Homo sapiens: one gene and its partner. The protein of the gene in region 2 interacts with the protein of the main gene of each other region in a pairwise test. Each region holds a gene or a part of one and is shown on either strand. Other genes may lie near its edges.

Evidence for each region.
Region 1: the proteins of PIP4P2 (region 2) and GTF2IRD1 interact in a two-hybrid assay, tested with the Homo sapiens proteins (one large-scale study listed by BioGRID).

What each region holds. Positions count from the first base shown.
Region 1 is NC_000007.14:74,554,614-74,558,480, forward strand, and holds part of GTF2IRD1 (general transcription factor II-I repeat domain-containing protein 1), read left to right. Parts: intron 1-560; coding exon 561-610; intron 611-779; coding exon of another isoform or gene 780-824; coding exon 825-881; intron 882-3,025; coding exon 3,026-3,109; intron 3,110-3,867. UniProt on the Homo sapiens protein: May be a transcription regulator involved in cell-cycle progression and skeletal muscle differentiation. May repress GTF2I transcriptional functions, by preventing its nuclear residency, or by inhibiting its transcriptional activation.
Region 2 is NC_000008.11:91,016,823-91,020,689, forward strand, and holds part of PIP4P2 (type 2 phosphatidylinositol 4,5-bisphosphate 4-phosphatase), read right to left. Parts: intron 3,442-3,867; coding exon 3,335-3,441; intron 1,692-3,334; coding exon 1,568-1,691; intron 1-1,567. UniProt on the Homo sapiens protein: Catalyzes the hydrolysis of phosphatidylinositol-4,5-bisphosphate (PtdIns-4,5-P2) to phosphatidylinositol-4-phosphate (PtdIns-4-P).

The sequences.
Region 1 (3,867 bases), on a different chromosome or scaffold from region 2:
CTGCAACCTCTGCCTCCTGGGTTCAAGCCATTCCCCTCCCTCAGCCTCCCAAGTAGCTGGGATTATAGGCACCTGCCACCACACCTGGCTAATTTTTGTATTTTTAGTAGAGACGGGTTTCACCATGTTGGCCAGGCTGGTCTCAGACTCCTGACCTCAAGTGATCTGCCCTCCTCGGCCTCCCAAAATGCTGGGATTACAGGCGTGAGCTACTGCACCTGACCTTGTTTCTACACTTTAAACCAGCTCCACGGGAGGCCACCTGAGGCCACCTGCTCCAATCCCAGGCAGTGACAATCGTGCAATGTCCCTGGAGCAGGAGTGAGATATCAGATGGACCTGTTCAGGACTGGGGGGGGTCTCACTCCCAGCTGGATCCTTCAAGCCCAGCGCAGCCCCCCAGATTCCACATGTGGGGCGGCAGGGACTCCAGGCCTGAACTATGCATAGCCAGAAGGGTCCATTGCAGGGCTGTGTAGACTGAGGCCCAGAGAGGAGGGCTGAGCAGTCCCAGAGATGCTTGGAGGGACCTCTGTGATAGCCTCGCTTGTGTTTTCCAGGCCCGAGCTGCTCACTGAGGGAGTCAAAGAGCCCATCATGGATAGTCAAGGTACCCAGCGCGGGGTCGGGAGCCATGGTGTGGGCGGGCAAGGGAGGGCCCCAGGCCTCTGCCACCAGCCCCTCCTCCTGCTGCCTCTGTCCTGCTCCCATCCTGGCCCTGGCATTCTCCCCACACCCCCACATTGGGTTTCCCCTAACGATGCCATCTTGGGTCCCAGGAACTGCCTCCTCACTTGGCTTCTCTCCCCCTGCCCTGCCCCCAGAGAGGGATTCCGGGGACCCTCTGGTGGACGAGAGCCTGAAGAGACAGGGCTTTCAAGGTAAGGTTGAGCTCACGGGGAGGTCTGTTGTCCCAGCACCAGGACATTGACCTGGTTTGGGTTTGGAGGGCCAGGCTGGAAGTGGGGAGGAGCTGGCCCCCAACTTCAGGGCCTAAGGGACCAGGCAAGCCAGGTTGGCAGCCCAGGCCCGGCTGTACCCTGCCAGCTCTGTGTTAGAGACTCCAGGGGAGAGGGGGTGCCTACAGGTGGACGGTCGGGGGAGCCCAGGAGCCTGCCTGCCCCCTCCCTGCCCCACCCCCCAGAGGTAGCTGACACGCCCACTCCTTTTTCAGCAATCAGCTGTGGTCTTAGTGCTTTGAAATCAGAATAGGAGCCAGACGCGGCACCTCACGCCTGTAATCTCAGCACTTGGGAAGGTCAAGGTGGGAGGATCGCTTGAGGCTGGGAGCTCGAGACAAGCCTGGACAACATAGAACCCGTCTCTATGTCTATTTTTAAGAAAAGAAATCAGAGGCCGAGTGCAGTGGCTCACGCCTGTAATCCCAGCACTTTGGGCGGCCGAGGCAGGTGGATCACTTGAGGCCAGGAGTTCAAGACCAGCCTGGCCAACATGGTGAAACCCCGTGTCTACCAAAAAAATACAAGAATTAGTTGGGCGAGGTGGCGTGCACCTGTGATCCCAGCTACTAGGGAGGCTAAGGCGGGAGAATCGCTTGAACCTGGGAGGCGGAGATTGCAGTGAGCCGAGATCATGCCACTGCACTCCAGCCTGGGTGACAGAGCAAGACCCTGTCTCAAAAAAAAAAGAAAGAGAGAGAGAGAGAGAGATGGTGGTCTGGGATCCCTCCAGCACATGCTGGCACTTGTCTTTGTTTGTTTGTTTGGATGGAGTTTTACTCTTGTTGCCCAGGCTGGAGTGCAATGGCGTGATCTCAGCCCACTGCAACCTCCGCTTCCCGGGTTCAAGCAATTCTCCTGCCTCAGGCTCCCAAGTAGCTGGGATTATAGGCACGTGCCACCACACCCGGCTAATTTTTGTATTTTTTAGTAGAGACGGGGTTTCACCATGTTGGACAGGCTGGTCTCGAGCTCCTGACCTCAGATGATCTGCCCACCTCAGCCTCCCAAAGTGTTGGGATTACAGGCATGAACCACTGCACCCAGCTTTTTTTTTTTTTTTTTTTTTGAGACAGAGTCTTGCTCTGTCACCCAGGCTGGAGTGCAGTGGTGCGATCTTGGCTCACTACAACCTCCACCTCCCAGGTTCAAGGGGTTCTCTTGCCTCAGCCTCCCAAGTAGCTGGGATTACAGGTACGCACCACCATGCCTGGCTAATTTTTGTATTTTTAGTAGAGATAGGGTTTCACCACATTGGCCAGGCTGGTTTCCAACTCCTGCCCTCAGGTGATCCTCCTGCCTCAGCTTCCCAAAATGCTGGGGTTACAGGCATGAGCCGCCGCGCCCGGTCACACTTGGGCGTTTTTAATGAACACTTTCTGGGTGAGGGTGTCTTGGTGGCTCATGCCTGTAATCCCAGCACTTTTGGAGGCTGAGGCAGGCAGATCACTTGAGCTTGGGGGTTCGAGGCCAGCCTGGGCAACATGGCGAAACCCCATCTCTACCAAAAACACAAAAAAGAAATTAGCCAGGTGCGGTGGTGCACGCCTGTGGTCCCAGCTACTCAGAAGGCTGAAGCAGGAGAATCGCCTGAGCCTGGGAGGTGGAGGTTCCATTGGGAGCCGCCAGGCCCATCCCCTGTGTCTGTGGGGACTGCCCATCCTCCTCCATCTGCTAGATCAGCTGGGCTTCCATTCCCTCGCTTGTCTCCAGCCCCCTAGTGACTTCATGAAGCCCCCGCCCCCTGCCTGCCAGCCCAGGGCACAGGACTCCGTACTCTATGGTGTCCCTCCCCTCCGGGGCTTATTTATTGGTTTGGTGGTTTTCAAATGTCATCAATTAACTTAATTTCCAACTCATCACTGTTGTGGCAACAGTGCATGTCCTTCTGAAAAAAAGACATCTCCATCAACATGTCGGTGCTGAAGGACCTGAGGGGCCCACTCCAAAGATCCTTTAATTGCCGGAGAAGGAGTTCCCCATAATTAGAAAATCATCTTCCTTAAAAGTCACCAAGTGCTTTTTCACTCAACAGCCCAAACCCATAATCGTTTTGCGCTTTGCAGAAAATTATGACGCGAGGCTCTCACGGATCGACATCGCCAACACACTAAGGGAGCAGGTCCAGGACCTTTTCAATAAGAAATACGGTAAGCAGTGCAGAACCCCCGGGGAGGGACACGCAGCTGCTGTGCACAGAGAAGTGGGAGGCTTCCCAGTTCCAGCCGAGGGCATTTCTGGGGAAACAATTCACCCCTTTACATGTATTTCTTGAGCATATACTACGTGCCAGGCACTGTCTCAGGCACTGGGGATATTGCTGTGAATAAAACAGACACAGTCCCTGTACTCATGAGCCTTGCAGACCAATGAGGTGAGATACACTTTCAAGAACTACACACAGAATTTAATAGACAAGGGCCCGGCACAGTGGCTCCTGCCTGTAATCCCAGCACTTTTGGAGGCTGAGGCAGGTGGATCACTTGAGCTCAGGAGTTCGAGGCCAGCCTGGGCAACATGGCAAAACCCCATCTCTACCAAAAACACAAAAAAGAAATTAGCCAGGTGCAGTGGTGCACACCTGTGGTCCCAGCTACTCAGGAAGCTGAAGCAGGAGAATCGCTTGAGCCTGCGAGGGGGAGGTTGCAGTGAGCTGAGATCGCGCCATTGCATTCCAGCCTAGGCAACAAAAGCGAAACTCCGTCTCAAAAAAAAAAAAAAAAAAATGGAGCATATGACATGGGAGCATATTGGTGTGGCTTTTTCTTTCGTTTCTTTTTTTTTTTTTTTTTTTTTTTTTTTTTTGAGACAGGGTCTCACTCTGTCACCCATGCTGGAGTACAGTGGCGTGATCATGGTTCACTACAGCCTCAAACTCCTGGGCTCAAGCAATCCTCCTGCCTCAGCC
Region 2 (3,867 bases):
TTAATTATAGTAATAGGTATTTTATAGTTCTACACAAGAATATGAGAAGAATGAATGATTTACACATAGAAAATTAAATCCAAAGGAGGGGGCAATTATTTGTAAGTCCAAGAAAATGTTAAAATGCATGCACAAGAAAAATGTACCACATTGCTTGGTTCAGCTGTGAACAAAATTTACCTAATCATAAAAATTGTAAACACTAAGTATTAATTAAACAAAATGTTGCAATTTGACTGGGAGTATGAAAGCAAGGAAAGGAATATGAGTGGGAGGGCAGTATAAGTGCTAAGTTCTCATTTTGCAGTTTACTATTTAGTGGGTAATGTCTAAAATTGCTTAATCAAATAGAAAAAGGATAAGCAATTTAAACACATAGAAGTCTGGCCAACATTATGTAACCCCATCTGTACTAAAAATACAAAAATTAGCCAGGTGTGGTGGTGTGCACCTATAATCCCAGCTACTTGGGAGGCTGTGGCAGGAGAATTGCTTGAACCCGGGAGGCAGGGGTTGCAGTGAGCTGAGATCACGCCACTGTACTCCAGCCTGGGCGACGGAGTGAGACTTCATCTCAAAAAATAAATGAATAAATAAATAAAAATTTAAAAATTATAAAAAATAAACACATAGAAGTGACTATCAATAAAGTAGCTGAAAGAGTTGAAAGCATTTTGGGAACAGTAACTAGGGGTCAGCTAGATGAGAAGATTGCAGTCCCATTTGACATTTAGAACTATATACATAAAGTTCTTTAATAAAAGTAAAATTACAAATAAAAAAAAGCAAACCACTTATATTTTCTTAAGCTCATTCATGTCTTAGTGACAGCAGGTTTTGTTTAGACTCCCATGTGTATACTCTGATAAATATTTTTCATATTCAAGTTCTAAAGAAAATGTTTGTCTCCTATATGGGCTGAACAATAAAAGAAAACCTGTCCTTATCCTTCCTGACAGGGTAAGTTAATTATGAATTTAACTTTAAAAAAAATCAAACTAAGTTTAAGTTAGAAGTAGTAAAACAAAAACTTTTATAACTTTTGCTCATATCAAATTACTTATACTTTCTTATTCTTTATCTAATGGTTTTATCTAATTATGGGTAACAGTGTTAATTCCCTTTGCTCCAAGAATAATTTATAAAAGTCAGAAAATTTTTGATAAATTATTATTCAAATTTTTCCTCAATCTAGAAGCCATGAAGCAAATCTACTGCATGAGATTGTGCACTTTGACCTCTGCTGAGCAGGTGAGAGCAGGGCTAAGACTCAGCTGCTCCCCAAGCCAAGATACTCATGGAACTAAGCCTGGGCACGATTTCTCATTGGCCTACATAGAGAGGATCCTTTTTGCAACTGGACTTATCAGAGGACGTACCTTTTATCTAGTTCACAGAAGATGCTCTATATCCTAGTTGCACTTCTGATTGTCTGCCTAAATAAGTCTCTATTTTAATATTTTGATTAATTTGCATTTGGACAAAACTATAAGACTATGAGCAGTGCTCTAATCTGTAAGATCATGACCTATATTTACAGATTAATGACAAATGTCCAGTGACTTACCAGGAATGTGTTTCCACAGTGCCCACACACGACCCTTGTACCTTCTGGTTGGATTGGCAATGCAGGCTGAGCTGGTTGTTCTTCAGAAATAAGCATTACTGGGCCAAGGTTAATTATCCGTCTACTGTGAAAAGAGAAAGGAAACAACTTCACTATCCCACAAATGGACTGAGAGCAAAACCTGCAACATATGGCCAAAAATATGAAATGTGCTATACTTGTTTCATAAATTAAGTGAATTAAATGTCAAGCTGGAGGCAAAACTACAAAGAGTAGCAACAGTCAGTTTTTCAAAAGCAAAATATGAGTCTGTACTTGGGATAGAAACAATATATTATAGCATTGGTCCTAATCAATGGCAACCATTTAACTGTCATTTCCAAGTTTTTGTAAGTTCAAATCAGAAAACAGTTGTTACCCTTCCTTATCTAGGAAGCCAACTTGAGTTTGGTAGAAGACTAAGTTAAAAATATTCTATACCAACAAAAATCTCTGTGCCATGAAGGCACCGAAGGGCTGGGTTACAACCAAATTTCTCTGAGCAGTGTGATATTCCTTGATGCGTATTTAATCAGAGATGAAAAGAAAGCAAACAGGATCCTGCTTTCATTTCTATTCTCTAGTCTATCATTGGATAGGGCTGTACATGATTCATGTAATGGTCAAAAAGCTAGAGAGATCACAGAAAAAAAACACAAGTAAGGCCTTTATATACTTGTATCTGGGGACATCCATAATGGTACTGGGCATGAGCGAATAATTCCAGAATTTATTGCACATATACATTCAGCAGAGATTAGTATAATATACAGTGAGATACACAAAAATAACTAAAACACTTGCAGGTGAAGATTAATTATATCAAAAGTAAACTAAGTGATTACTTTTTTTTTTTTAAGAGATGGGCCAGGCATGGTGGCTCATGCCTGTAATCCCAGCACTTTGGGATCACTTGAACCCAGGAGTTCAAGACAGCCCGGGCAATATGGTGAAACCCTGTCTCTACAAAAAAAAAAAAAAAAAAAAAAAAAAAAATATATTACCTGGGAGTGGTGGTGTGTGCTTGTAGTCCCAGCTACTCAGGAGGAGGCTATAGTGGGAAGGCTTTCAGGGCAGAAGGTAGAGGTCACAGTGAGCCAACTCTTTTGAGACTCTTCCCGTTGAGACTCTGTCTCAAAAAAAAAAAAAAAGAGAGAGACTAACAGATGGGGTCTCACTCTGTTGCCCAGGCTGGAGTGCAGAGGCACAGTCATAGCTCATTGAAGGCTTTAATCCCTAGGCCCAAATGATACTCCTGCCTCAGTCTCCCAAGTAACTGGGAATATAGGTGCATGCTGTCACACCTGGCTAATTTTTTGTAGAGATGGGGTCTCACTATGTTGCTCAGTTTGGTCTCAAACTACCAGCTTCAGGCAATCCTCCCACCTCAGCCTCCCAAATTGCTAGGAATACAGGCATGAACCACTGGCCTGACCTCATTATTTTTAAATACGTTCAATGTGTCATTGATTTATTACAGTGCATTAAGTACTTACATAACACAAAGAAAACATTCATTGCTCATTTAAGAATATTATATCCTACAAATATCTATGACTAAGTTCAAACTAAGCTTATCATTCCTTTAACAAAAAAATAATCTAGATTCTGGAATGACTTTGAAAACAAAAACTCTTTCTAGAACAAAGCCTGGCACTGAAGAACCTTTAGTAAATACTTGTTGAATGAACAAATGAATGAATCAATGAATTAATCTTTATCTCTTACCAGTTGGGTCTTGGGCATCCTATTCGCCGAGATGTGTCCTTACAAATGAGAAGACAATTACAAGGGCATCTAACATATTTCTTGCCTGTTGGGGGGTTTTTGATTGGCTGGATAAGGGAAGAAAATGCAAACACAGCAATTAACCAAAGTACAGATTGTCAAAGTTTGTTTGTGTTTAAAAAGGAAAGGATTCCATTAAAACTAATGAAATATATTGCTTTTGTAACTTAAGGTTTTATTTTATGATTTTTCTATAAAACATATGAAGTCAAGTATTCATGTTTTGTGGTCCTTCAAGACACAATAATCACTGGCTGACTTTTTTTAGTCTTTTCTAAAGAGAAAAAAATAAAACATCAAAGATAAAATTAATATTTAATTGCAGATTTTGAGAGATCAAAATGTAATATATAAAGCCTAACTATGAAAGAAATATATTTCATCTAAACCAGTGTATGCTTTACCAGTTTATTACTTGAAGCTATAAAAATACTGCTGAAAATTTAGTTGCTCCCCAAAGCTCAATTTTTAAA